3 linked regions of the Homo sapiens genome follow. The protein of the gene in region 1 interacts with the protein of each later gene in a pairwise test. Each region holds a gene or a part of one and is shown in the gene's direction. Other genes may lie near its edges. The genes, in order: TLK1, ZNF829 and LUZP4.

Region 1 (3,753 bases):
TCTTGGCCTGCTATCAATTATAGCTTGTTTGTATGAGAATTCATCTCAGGTTTCAAATAACTGAGGAAGATTTTAGAACACAAGATATTTGGATTTTCGGTTTTGGGAATTCGCTTAAACAGAAATGATATCTGTGTTTAAATATTTTGTGAGAAAAGTATCTCAACATTTAATTTTTTTTTTAAGCCATTTGGTCACAATCAATCTCAACAAGACATTCTTCAAGAAAATACAATATTAAAAGCCACAGAAGTCCAGTTCCCTGTAAAACCGGTTGTAAGCAGTGAAGCCAAGGTATTAAATTTTTGTAAATGAGTTTTGTGAAGTAACTTTTCTTTCATCAGTTGTGCTGACAACAAGGTAAGTACTTTCCAGTAAGTAAAGTCACAAGACTCGCTGCTGCAGGGGATCTGTCCAGCAGGGGCTGGTGATTTACTTTCAGAGAAGGAGTTGCATCAGCCTCTGGTTGCTATAGTTTTTATCTTTTAAGCTATGGTCTCTGATTGTTTATGTTCATCAGCTGCTACTTTGAAAATTAGGGAAAAATCACAAGATCTGGGCTCATCATTACCTTTTATGTATTATTTTATCTGCTTATGTTAATACTGAGATATATAAGTATATAAGAAATATTAAAAGTAATAATAAGGCTGGGCGTGGTGGCTCACACCTGTAATCCCAGCACTTTGGGAGGCCAAGGCGGGCAGATCATCTGAGGTCAGGAGTTTGAGACCAGCCTGACCAACATGGTGAAACCCGGTCTCTACTAAAAATACAAAAATTAGCCAGGCGTGGTGGCACACATCTAGAGTCTCAGTTGCTTGGGAGTCTGAGGTGGGAGGATCACCTGAGCTCAGGGAGGTCAAGGCTGCAGTGAGCCATGACGATACCGCTGCACTCAAACCTGGGGGACAGAGTGACACCCTGTCTCAAAAAAACCAAATAGGCCATGCGCGGTGGCTCACACCTGTAATCCAGCAATTTGGGAGGCCCAGGCAGGCAGATTGCCTGAGCCCAGGAGTTCGAGACCAGCCTGGGCAACATGGTGAAACCCCATCTCTACTAAAAATACAAAAATTAGCCCGGTGTAGGGGCCCGTGCCTTTAGTTTCAGCTTCTCAGGATGCTGAGCTGGGAGGATCGCTTGAGACCAAGAGGTAGAGGTTGCAGTGAGGTGAGATCGCACCACTGCACTCCTGCATGGGCGACATAGCAAGACCCATTCTCAAAAAAACAAAAGAGATAAATATTCTTATTTGAAAGCAAAATGAATTATTTTTGTAAGATAAATATGACTCCTTTAAAAATATTTTAACTGTGCTGACATCTAAATCTTGTCTTATTTTCTGTCTGTAGCCTCATTGAGAACAGAAATTAAATGAATTTAGTTGATTCATGATCTGTTTGTTTAATACTGACTGAAAAGACCAGGAGGAGTGGAGTTGCCAAAGGCAAAGTCTCATTTAGCCATTCCTGGTTCTCTCCTTAGGCTCTTAATAGGCACCACAGTCACCTTTTAGAGATCTGGAATCCAGGAAGGGTTAAGGGGTTGTTGGGGGGATATAATATTAATATGATACAATTATATGATATAAATTTTAATATTTTAATGTAATATATAATATCTCTATATTCTGTATCCCTACAGAAGATACCTTTGCCAAGTACTTTCCCTGACTTGGTGTGGGCATCTTTAAGTACATTATTTGTTGCAGACTTAACCTTAACCTTGCTATTGATAGCCTTTCCACTCCTCAAACTCTAACATATCAGTCTTGATGTTTTTTTCCCTCTTAATCATTTTTCAAAGTGATCTCTGAAACTTTGTTAAAGATAAAAAAGATAAGTCCTCTAAGGGATCAGATTGACTTCCAATAAACAGTAAGCTATGGTAAAATGAGAATAGCTAGGTATATTTTTAGAGAAAAATATACTTCTAATGAATTTCAAAGCAAAGAAAGTGCAAAATAGTTACCTTTTAATGTGATTATACTTCTGTTTAATGGTATGTATTAATTTCTAGTGTCAGCATTAAGAAAGGGAAACAATTACCAGTTACCTCCTGAGAATATTTTATCTGTTCCCTCCCCCCCCAAAAAAGGATGAACCTCAAAATTTAATATTGGGTGAAAGAGGCCTGGCAAAGGAGAACATAATTTATAATTCTATTTATATAAAATTCAAACAATCAAAACTCAACTATGGTTTTAGAAGTCAAGATAAAGGTTAACCCAGGTTCGACTGGGGACAGAGCCAGTGCCTGGAACTGGGCATGAGGGGGATTCAGAGGTTCTTTTTCTTGATCTGGTTGCCAGTTACATAGATGTATTTACTTTGTGCTATGCACTTAACGATTTGTGTGCATTTCTAAAAATGTGTTACACTTCAGGAAAGGTTTTTTTTTTTTTTGTAAGAGGCTATTCTCAAAGAAAAACTGAGTAAAATTGGTTTGAGAAAAAAAAAATAGTGATTATATTCTGTTTATTTAGCTTTTCCAGGAGTGTAATGATGCATAGGGTTAACCTGGGAAACAATGTCCCTAATGAAAGTGTCCCTTCAGTGATCTCTTCATCTAAAGAAAGTCTTTATGTCAGTAGGAAAAAAAAATAATGGTTGAAAATGGCATCTTACCCTTTGCTAAACTGAAGTGATAACAAAATGGGATGAGGGTGGGAGGACTGTTTAGCAGAAGAAAAATGCTAGAAAAAAGTCTTCAGAATTTCGTAAGCAGAAACAACTTTCCAGTATAAGTTCAAATGGTTGCAGTAGTAATTTAGACTGTAAAGTGAACCACTGCAGGGGCTTCAAGCAGTGAGTTGCATTTGGAGTGAGAATTTTCTAGCTACAGAATTTTTTTTTTAAGGTTTGAACTTCCAATAAAATGAGATCTACTTATGTCTTAAATGTGTCCATCCTTCTGCTGATTCAGTTGATTGATATTTAGAAGGGAAAAAGATCATTAATTGCTAACATTTCCTTTCTCTTTTTGAGGCATTTATAAGACGCTGTTTGGCATATCGAAAAGAAGATCGATTTGATGTGCACCAGCTGGCAAATGACCCATACCTTCTCCCACACATGAGAAGATCAAATTCTTCAGGAAACCTACACATGGCTGGGCTGACAGCATCCCCTACACCCCCTTCTTCAAGCATAATTACTTACTGACTTTCCTCCAAGATTGGCATGATATCTTTGAATTTGCTTCCAGATGCACACTTAAGTTTGAGAGCATTTGAGTGTTTGTTTTCTTTTTCTTTTTTTTTTTTTTTTTTTTTTACACAAGACGTGGTTAAGAACTGTTTGTGAACTGAAGTTCCTCATAGTGTCATTTGTATGAGAGAGGATCATGGACAATGAATAAATGCACACTTCTGACTATAATTTTGAGCAGTGAAGGAAGGATGACTGCCTGTTACACAGAAACAGGAATACCATGTTAAGATAGAGGAAAAAAATTTTGTTTATTTGGGGGAACACTGTAAATAACGTTTATAATACTTAAATACATTTGGTTGTTACTAGAGAGTTCTAATATGAAGGGTAGTTTTTCATTATTTAAAAACACATGGAAAAATATGAGACATATTTCTAACATACGAACTATAGTGCCTGGATACATTCTTCAGCATTTGGCAGTTAATCTGCTGAAACCAAAGTAAGAACTGAATGACAGTGACAGTTGTGTTTTATAGTAATAGAATGTGAGAGTTAGAATCTTTGGACAAAGTTAGGCTTTGTCATTTGCCTATTC
Region 2 (3,753 bases), on another chromosome or scaffold:
TTTAAAACTGTTTATAGAGATCGGGGGGGGTCTCCCTATGTTCCCCAGGCTGGTCTTGAACTCCTGGCCTCAAGTGATCCTCCTGACTTGGCCTCCCAATGTGCTGGGATTACAGTTATGAGCCGCTATGGCACTGCTATTAAGTTTTTTTGCTTCCTTGTTAATTCTGGATATTAGTCCCTTCTCAGGTGAAGAGTTTGCAAATATTTTCTCCCATTCTACAGGTCTCTTCACTCTGCTGATTGTTTCCTTTGCTGTGCAGAAGCATTTTAGTTCAATATAGTCCAATTTGTCTATTTTTTTGTTGTTGCCCCTTATTGAAAATATCTTTGAGGTCTTATCTAAAATATATTTGCCTATTCTTCTGAAGTGTTTCCCCTATGTTTTCCTGCAGTAGTTTTATAATTTGGGGTCTTATAGTTAAGTATTTAATTCATTTTGAGTTTATTTTTGTATATGGTGAGAGATACAGTCTAGTTTCATTCTTCACTATATGGATAACCAGTTTTCCCAGCACCATTTATTGAACAGCGTGTCCTTTTCCCTATGTCTGTTCTTGGCACCTTTGTCAACCATCAGTTGACTATAAATACATGGATTTATTTGTGGGTTCTCTCTTCTGTTCCATTGGTCTTTGGGTCTATTTTTATGACAGTACCATGCTGTTTTGGTTACGACAGCTTTGTAGTATATTTTGAAGTTTGATTCTTCCACTTTTGTTCTTTCGCTACAGATTGCATTGGCTATTTGGCATTTTTTATGGTTTCCTACAAATTTTAGGATTTTTTTTCCTGTTCATGTAAAAACTGACTGGCATTTCAGTCGGGATTGCATTGAATCTGTAGATTGCATTGAATCTGTAGATTGCTTTGGGAAGTATGTTCATTTTAACAATAGTTCTTCCAGTGCATAAGCATGCAAATATCTTTTTATTTGTTTGTTGTCTTCAATTTCTTTTGTCTGTGTTTTGTAGTTTTCCTTACAGAGGTCTTTCACTTCATGGTTAAATTTATTTCTAGGTTGTTTTTTGTAGCTATTATATTAATAAATGGGATTGTTTTCTTGATTTCTTTTTCAGCTAATTCATTATTGTGGATGTATAGAAATCCTTTTTTTTTCCCTTTTTGAGACAGAGTTTTGCTCTGTCTCCCAGGCTGGAGGAGTGCAATGGCATGATCTCAGCTCTCTGCAGCTTCCACCTCCTGGGTTCAAGCAGTTCTGCCTCAGCCTCCCACGTAGGTGGGACCACAGGTGCCTGCCACCACACCTGGCCAATTTTTGTATTTTTAGTCAAGACAAGGTTTCACCATGTTGGCCAGGCTGGTCTCAAACTCGTGACCTCAAGTGATCCACCCACCTCGGCCTTCCAAACTGCTGGGATTATAGGCGTGAGCCACCGTGCCCAGCGTACTACTTATTTTTGTATATTGATTTTGTATCTTGCAACTTTACTGATTTCATTGATCAGTTCCAAGAATTTCTGGTGGCATCTTTAGGTTTTTAAATATATGTAAGATCATGTCATCTGTAAAGGGACAGTGTGACTTTCTATTATCCAATCTGGATGCCTTTTATTTCTTTCTCTTGCCTGATTGCTCTGGATAGGACTTCCAGTACTATATTGAATAATAGTGGTGAATGTGGGCTTCTTTATCTTGTTCCAGTTCTTAGAGGAAAAGCTTTCGGCTTTTCCCCATTCAGTATGGTGTTAGCTGTACGTTTGTCATATATGGTCTTTATTATGTTATGTTTTTTAATGCCTAATCGTTGAGAGGTTTTTATAATGAAGAGACGTTGAAGTTTATCAGATGTTTCTCTGCATCTATTGAGCTGATCATATGGTTTTTATCCCTCATCCTGTTGATCTGATACATCATGTTTATTGATTTGCTTATGTTGAGCCATCCTTGCACTTTTCAGGAAAAATCTCACTTAATCGTTGTATATTATCTTGTTGTTGTATTATTGGATTTCATTTGCTAGTATTTCATTGAGGGGTTTTGTGTCTATGTTCATGAGGGATATCACCTCTTTTTGTTGTTGTTGTTGTGTCCTTCTCTGGTTTTGGTATCAGGGTAATGCTGGCCTTGTAGAATGGATTAGGAAGAATTAACTTCTCTTCCATTTTTTGGAATAGTTTGAGAAAAACTGAGGTTAGTTATTTGTAATTTTGGTAGGATTCAGCAGTAAAGCCCTTTAGTCTTGGGCTTTTTTTGTTGGGAGACATTTTACTATTGCTTCAATCTCATTACTCGTTATTGGTCTGCTCAGGTTCTTCTGCTCTGTTTCTTCCTGGTTCAGTCTTGGTAGGTTTTCATGTATCCAGGAATTTTTCTGTTTCCTCTAGGTTATCTGATTTGTTAGCATATAGTTGCCTGTAGTAGTCTTTGATGATCTTTAATTTCTTAATTGACCCAATGGGCATTCATGAGCAAGCACATTGTTTAAATTTCCATTTATTTGTGTGGTTTACAAAGTTTTTGTTATTGATTTCTAGTTTTATTCTAGTGTAGTCTGAGAAGATACTTGATATGATTTCAATTTTTAAAAATTAGTTATAACTTGTCTTATGGCCTAACGTATGGTCTCTTCCTGGAGGATGTTCCATGTGCTGATAGGAACAATGTGTATTCTGCAGCTGTTGGATAAAATGTTCAGTTAGTGTCTGGTAGGTCCATTTGGTCTAATATCCAGTTTAAATCCAAAGCTGTTGATTTTCTATCTAGATGAACTGTCTAATGCTGAGAGTGGGATGTTCAAATCCCGTACTATTATTTTATGGGAGTCTACCTTTTTTTGTTGTTGTTTTTTTGAGACAGAGTCTAGTTCCGTCGCCCAGGCTGGAGTGCAGTGGCACAATATTGGCTCACTGCAACCTCTGCCTCCCAGGTTCAAGCAATTCTCCTGCCTCAGCCTCCTGAGTAGCTCGGATTACAGGTGCATGCCACCACGCCCAGCTAATTTTTTTTTCTTTCTTTTTTTTTTTTTGACAGTCTTGCTCTGTCACCCAAGCTGGAGTGCAGTGGTGCGAACCCGGCTCACTTCAGGCTCCGTCTCCCAGGTTCACACCATTCTCCTGCCTCAGCCTCCCGAGTAGGTGGGACTACAGGTGCCTGCCACCATGCCTGGCTAATTTTTTGTATTTTTAGTAGAGACGAGGTTTCACCATGTTAGCCAGGATGGTCTCAATCTCCTGACCTCGTGATCTGCCTGCCTCAGCCTCCCAAAGTGCTGGGATTACAGGCATGAGCCACCGCGCCTGGCCACACCCAGCTAATTTTTGTATTTTTAGTAGAGACAGGGTTTCGTCATGTTGGGAAGGCTGGTCTCGAACTCCTGACCTCAAGTGATCCTCCCGCCTTGGCCTCCCAAAGTGTTGGGATTACAGGCATGAGCCACCATGCCCAGCCCTATCTCTCTTTTTAGATCTAATAATATTTGCTTATATATCTGGGTGCTGCAGTGTTGAGTGCCTATAAATTTAGAACTTTATATCCTCTGGCTGAATTGACCCATTTATCATTATATAATGACCTTCTTTGCTTCTTTTGCAGTTTTTTACTTAATGTCTGTTTTATTTAAGTATGGCTACTCTCACTTGCTTTTGGTTTGTTTGTGTGCAGTATTTTTTTTTCATCTCTTCACTTTCAGTCTATGATTTTATATATAAAGTGAGTTTCTCACAGCCAGTATATAGGTGAGTCATATTTATTTTATCCATTCAACCAGACTGTATCTTTTAAGTGGGGAATT
Region 3 (3,753 bases), on another chromosome or scaffold:
TTTTTCTTGACTAATTGCTCTGGATGGAATTTCTAGCAAAATGTTAATTAGATGCGGTGAGATTGGACATCCTTGACTTGTTTCTGATCTTAGGGAGAAAAGCTTTCAGTTTTTCACCATTAATCATCATTTTACCTTTGGTTGGGTTTTTGTAGATGCCCTTATGAGGTTGAGGAATTTACCTGCCTCCCACTTTACTTCTGAGGGGGAATGGCCCTGAAAAGTAACTAAGTATTTTTTGTTGTTGTTGTCTTTAAGATGTTTTTAGCAATCTATTTTAAGATCGGTATCAATTTCCTCTTCTAAGACATGGTCCCTGTTGATCCCATACTGCTACTTCCCCCTACCCCAACTTCATCACAAGTTCTGAAATATTTTGTGGCATTAAAATGACTTTAAAAATAATATTTGGTCACTGGCCAGGGCTGGGACTAGGGTGAGGTAAATGAGGCACTTGCTTCCAGTATAAAGTTCAAGGAGTCACAAAAAAAAAATTTGTTAATAGGGATAATTAATATTTTAATGAAATATTTAAAAAATCAAATGGACACACTACAGCCATCTGTCTGGCCACCTGTTTTTGTAAATAAAGTTTTCTTGACCTAAGAACTAGAGTGAAACAAGTGAAGGAGGGCTGTGCAAGTACAGGGTCTGATCTGATCCTATTTTTTTTTTTCTTTTTTGAAATGGGATCTCACTCTGTCACCCAGGCTGGAGTGCAGTGGCATTATCACAGCTCACTGCAGCCTCGACTTCCTGGGCTCAGGCAATCCTCCCACCTCAGCCTCCCAAGTAGCTGGGATACAGGCGTGTGCCACCACGCCCAGCTAATTTTTTTGTATTTTTGTAGAGACGGGTTCTCACTATATTGCCTAGACTGGTCTCGACTTCTGGGCTCAAGCGATCCATCCACCTTGACCTCCCAAAGTGCTAGGATTACAGGTGTGAGCCACCACATCCGGCCTTTGATACTATCCTTTTTTTAAAAAAAAAGCTTGATATTTTGTTCATCACGGATTGGTTTTGCATTGATTTTTATTTTTGAAAATACTGTGAGGCGGGCGTGGTGGCTCACACCTATAATCCCAGCTCTTTGGGAGGCTGAGGCAGGTAGATGACCTGAGGTCAGGAGTTCGAGACCAGCCTGGCCAACATGGTGAAATCCTGTCTCTCCTAAAAATACAAAAATTAGCCGGGCGTGGAGGCAGGCGCCTGTAGTCCCAGCTACTTGGGAGGCTGGGACAGGAGATTTGCTTGAACCCGGGAGGCCGAGGTTGCAGTGAGCCGAGATTGTGCCACTGCACTCCAGCCTGGGTGATGGAACTAGACTCCGTCTCAAAAAAAAAAAATAAAAAAAGATTGAAAAAAAGAAAATATTGTGTTGAGATATTTTAATCTTGATTACTGAGTTTTGGGGGACCTCCTTGAATTTTGTGCCTGAATTCCTCACTTACCTCACTCTAGGCCCTGCCTTGTCACTGGGACCTTGAAGGGAGAAAAACCTAGAACTGAAGGGAATTTATAGCACTGAGGTAAAACTTCATGCTTCCTGCACTTTTCTTTGTGTTGATTTCACTGATGTTTTTGCAACTGCTAACAGAAAAGACAAAACAAAACTGATAAATAGCTAAAGCAATGGGTTTATCTCAAAATTCAGAGAAATAAGGGCCATAGTTGCAGAGTGGCTTGGTCCCAAAAATGTAGTAGTTGTGTGACCTTGTGCAAGTTGCTCCATCTCTTGGGGCCTGAGTTTCCTGATCTGAATAAAATCTACATCATAGAGTTGTTGAAGATTAAATGAGAGAATACAGGTAATGTTCACAAAGTATGCTGCCTGACGTGGAAAAAGCTGAGTAAATATTTGCTATATGTGCCCCGGAAAGTGGGCCTAAACGCTCACGTTTGGGTAGCCAGCAATTTGGCAAGCTGGAGAAGTTACCTCTCCTCTTAGGATTTTGTTATCAAACTTCATAGATACAGTAGACATGAAAGAGATTAAAAACCATCTAGGTGAAAGATGGGGTTTAAACAGCTCACGTCAGTCTCTGGGAGACTGAGAGAGATGGTGGTGTCGTGTAACTTGAATAATAGTGAAGTAAACGGACTTAGGAGGCACTTATATTTTAGTAGATGATTACAGCTGGAAGGATACTGGAGAGTCTGCTTTGGGAAAGATTGCTTCAGTTATTTGAAAGGCTGAGGAAAGATGTTGAGTTGAATTTGGTAGGTTAGTTGGAGATTAAGTATGACTGTAAGATCTCATAGTCACCGAGTTGTAAAAAATCTTGAGGTCACTGTTTTATCCTTTTAAACGTTGGTTCTCTATATCCATATTTTAAACATTGGTTCTCTATATCCATATTTATACCTTTTTAGACAGATGAGAATCCCAGTTTTGATCATGTCAGGAGGAACAGCAAAACTTTCGACTAGTTATCACAGGCCCTTGCGGTTTATTTTATTTTTACTTTTATTTAATTTTTTGAGACAGGGTCTCTGTCGCTGAGGCTGGAGTGCAGTGGCACAATCACAGCTCACTGCAGCCTGGACCTCCCAGGCTCAAGCGATCCTCCCACCTTTGCCCCCAGAGTAGCTGGGACCCTAGGTGTGCACCACCACACCTGGCTCATTTTTGTATTTTCTTTGGTAGAGACGGAGTTTCGCCATGTTGCCCAGGCTGGTCTCGAACTCGTGGGCTCGAGCGATCTTCTCGCCTTGGCCTCCCAAAGTGCTGGGATTACAGCCGTGAGCCACCGTGCCAGGCTGAGGCCCTTGCAGTTTGAAGGCAAGAAAAATACACAATAAATAGCAAATACATGTTGCTTTCTATGATGTAATGAGAACGCCATACTTTTTCCTGATAAATTTCCCCATGTTTTTCTCAGTGAAAATAATACTTTTTAACAATGCATATCTTTGTTTTTAGATAACTAAACACATGCTTTAGAAAAGCAGTAGTATGTTGGATGCAAGGTTATTACTTCCATTGTAATACACGCTAAAGTAGGAAAAGGCTCTACAGATTTATTTTTGTTTTTGCCCTCAGTAAACATACCCAAAAAGTATTAGAGTCCTTTTTTTTTTTAAAACAAATAAAAGGCAAAAATAAGACCAAAATTCGAACTGGTAACAGCAAGAACTTAATAGGAACTCCACTCCCCTGTTAATTACTTTTACCTAAAAGAGACTGATGCAAAAGTGTTGTAGTTAGAAAGAAAAGAACTCTTTCTGCCTGCTAGATATGTTGGACCACGAATCCACAAATATGGATTATCCACTCTGTATTCTGTGCTAGGCACTTAGTACACTAGTAAATAAACAGTGGTCTCTTCTCAAGTACCTCCTAATCTAGCTGGAGAGACAGCTAAGTAAATATGTGCAATTATACATTGTTTTAAGTATTCTGGAAGTATGTATAGTCAGAATTTTTCAGAAGTTGAGAGGAACCTAAGTCACTTACATTTTTTGAGGTTTCCAGTGTTTTAAATATTTAAAAAATGGCAAAACAAAAATTGTGGTGTATTTTACATGTTTATAAATATAAAATAGTGGTTTCAACCCACTGTAAAATAAAATGCAATATAAGTATACTTTTCACAAGAAAATTAATTATGCAATTTAAATAAAAATGTAATTATTCATATGGCACCTCAAGCAGTGTGATCAGTTTTAAACTGTGTGAGGAATACTGTCTTTCTTCAGTCCTGACAGTTTATTTCTGAGAGTAAGTATATCAAGAATTCAAATTTAAGG

The links.
Region 2: the proteins of TLK1 (region 1) and ZNF829 interact in binary tests that used the Homo sapiens proteins (3 or more experiments, as listed by UniProt).
Region 3: the proteins of TLK1 (region 1) and LUZP4 interact in binary tests that used the Homo sapiens proteins (3 or more experiments, as listed by UniProt).

What each region holds. Positions count from the first base shown.
Region 1 is NC_000002.12:170,993,194-170,996,946, reverse strand, and holds part of TLK1 (serine/threonine-protein kinase tousled-like 1), read left to right. Parts: intron 1-186; coding exon 187-294; intron 295-2,990; coding exon 2,991-3,167; 3' UTR 3,168-3,753. UniProt on the Homo sapiens protein: Rapidly and transiently inhibited by phosphorylation following the generation of DNA double-stranded breaks during S-phase. This is cell cycle checkpoint and ATM-pathway dependent and appears to regulate processes involved in chromatin assembly.
Region 2 is NC_000019.10:36,895,542-36,899,294, reverse strand, and holds part of ZNF829 (zinc finger protein 829), read left to right. Parts: intron 1-3,753. UniProt on the Homo sapiens protein: May be involved in transcriptional regulation.
Region 3 is NC_000023.11:115,292,614-115,296,366, forward strand, and holds part of LUZP4 (leucine zipper protein 4), read left to right. Parts: intron 1-3,753. UniProt on the Homo sapiens protein: Export adapter involved in mRNA nuclear export in cancer cells. Binds and enhances the RNA-binding activity of the nuclear RNA export factor NXF1. Can restore mRNA export function in cells compromised by loss of mRNA export adapters.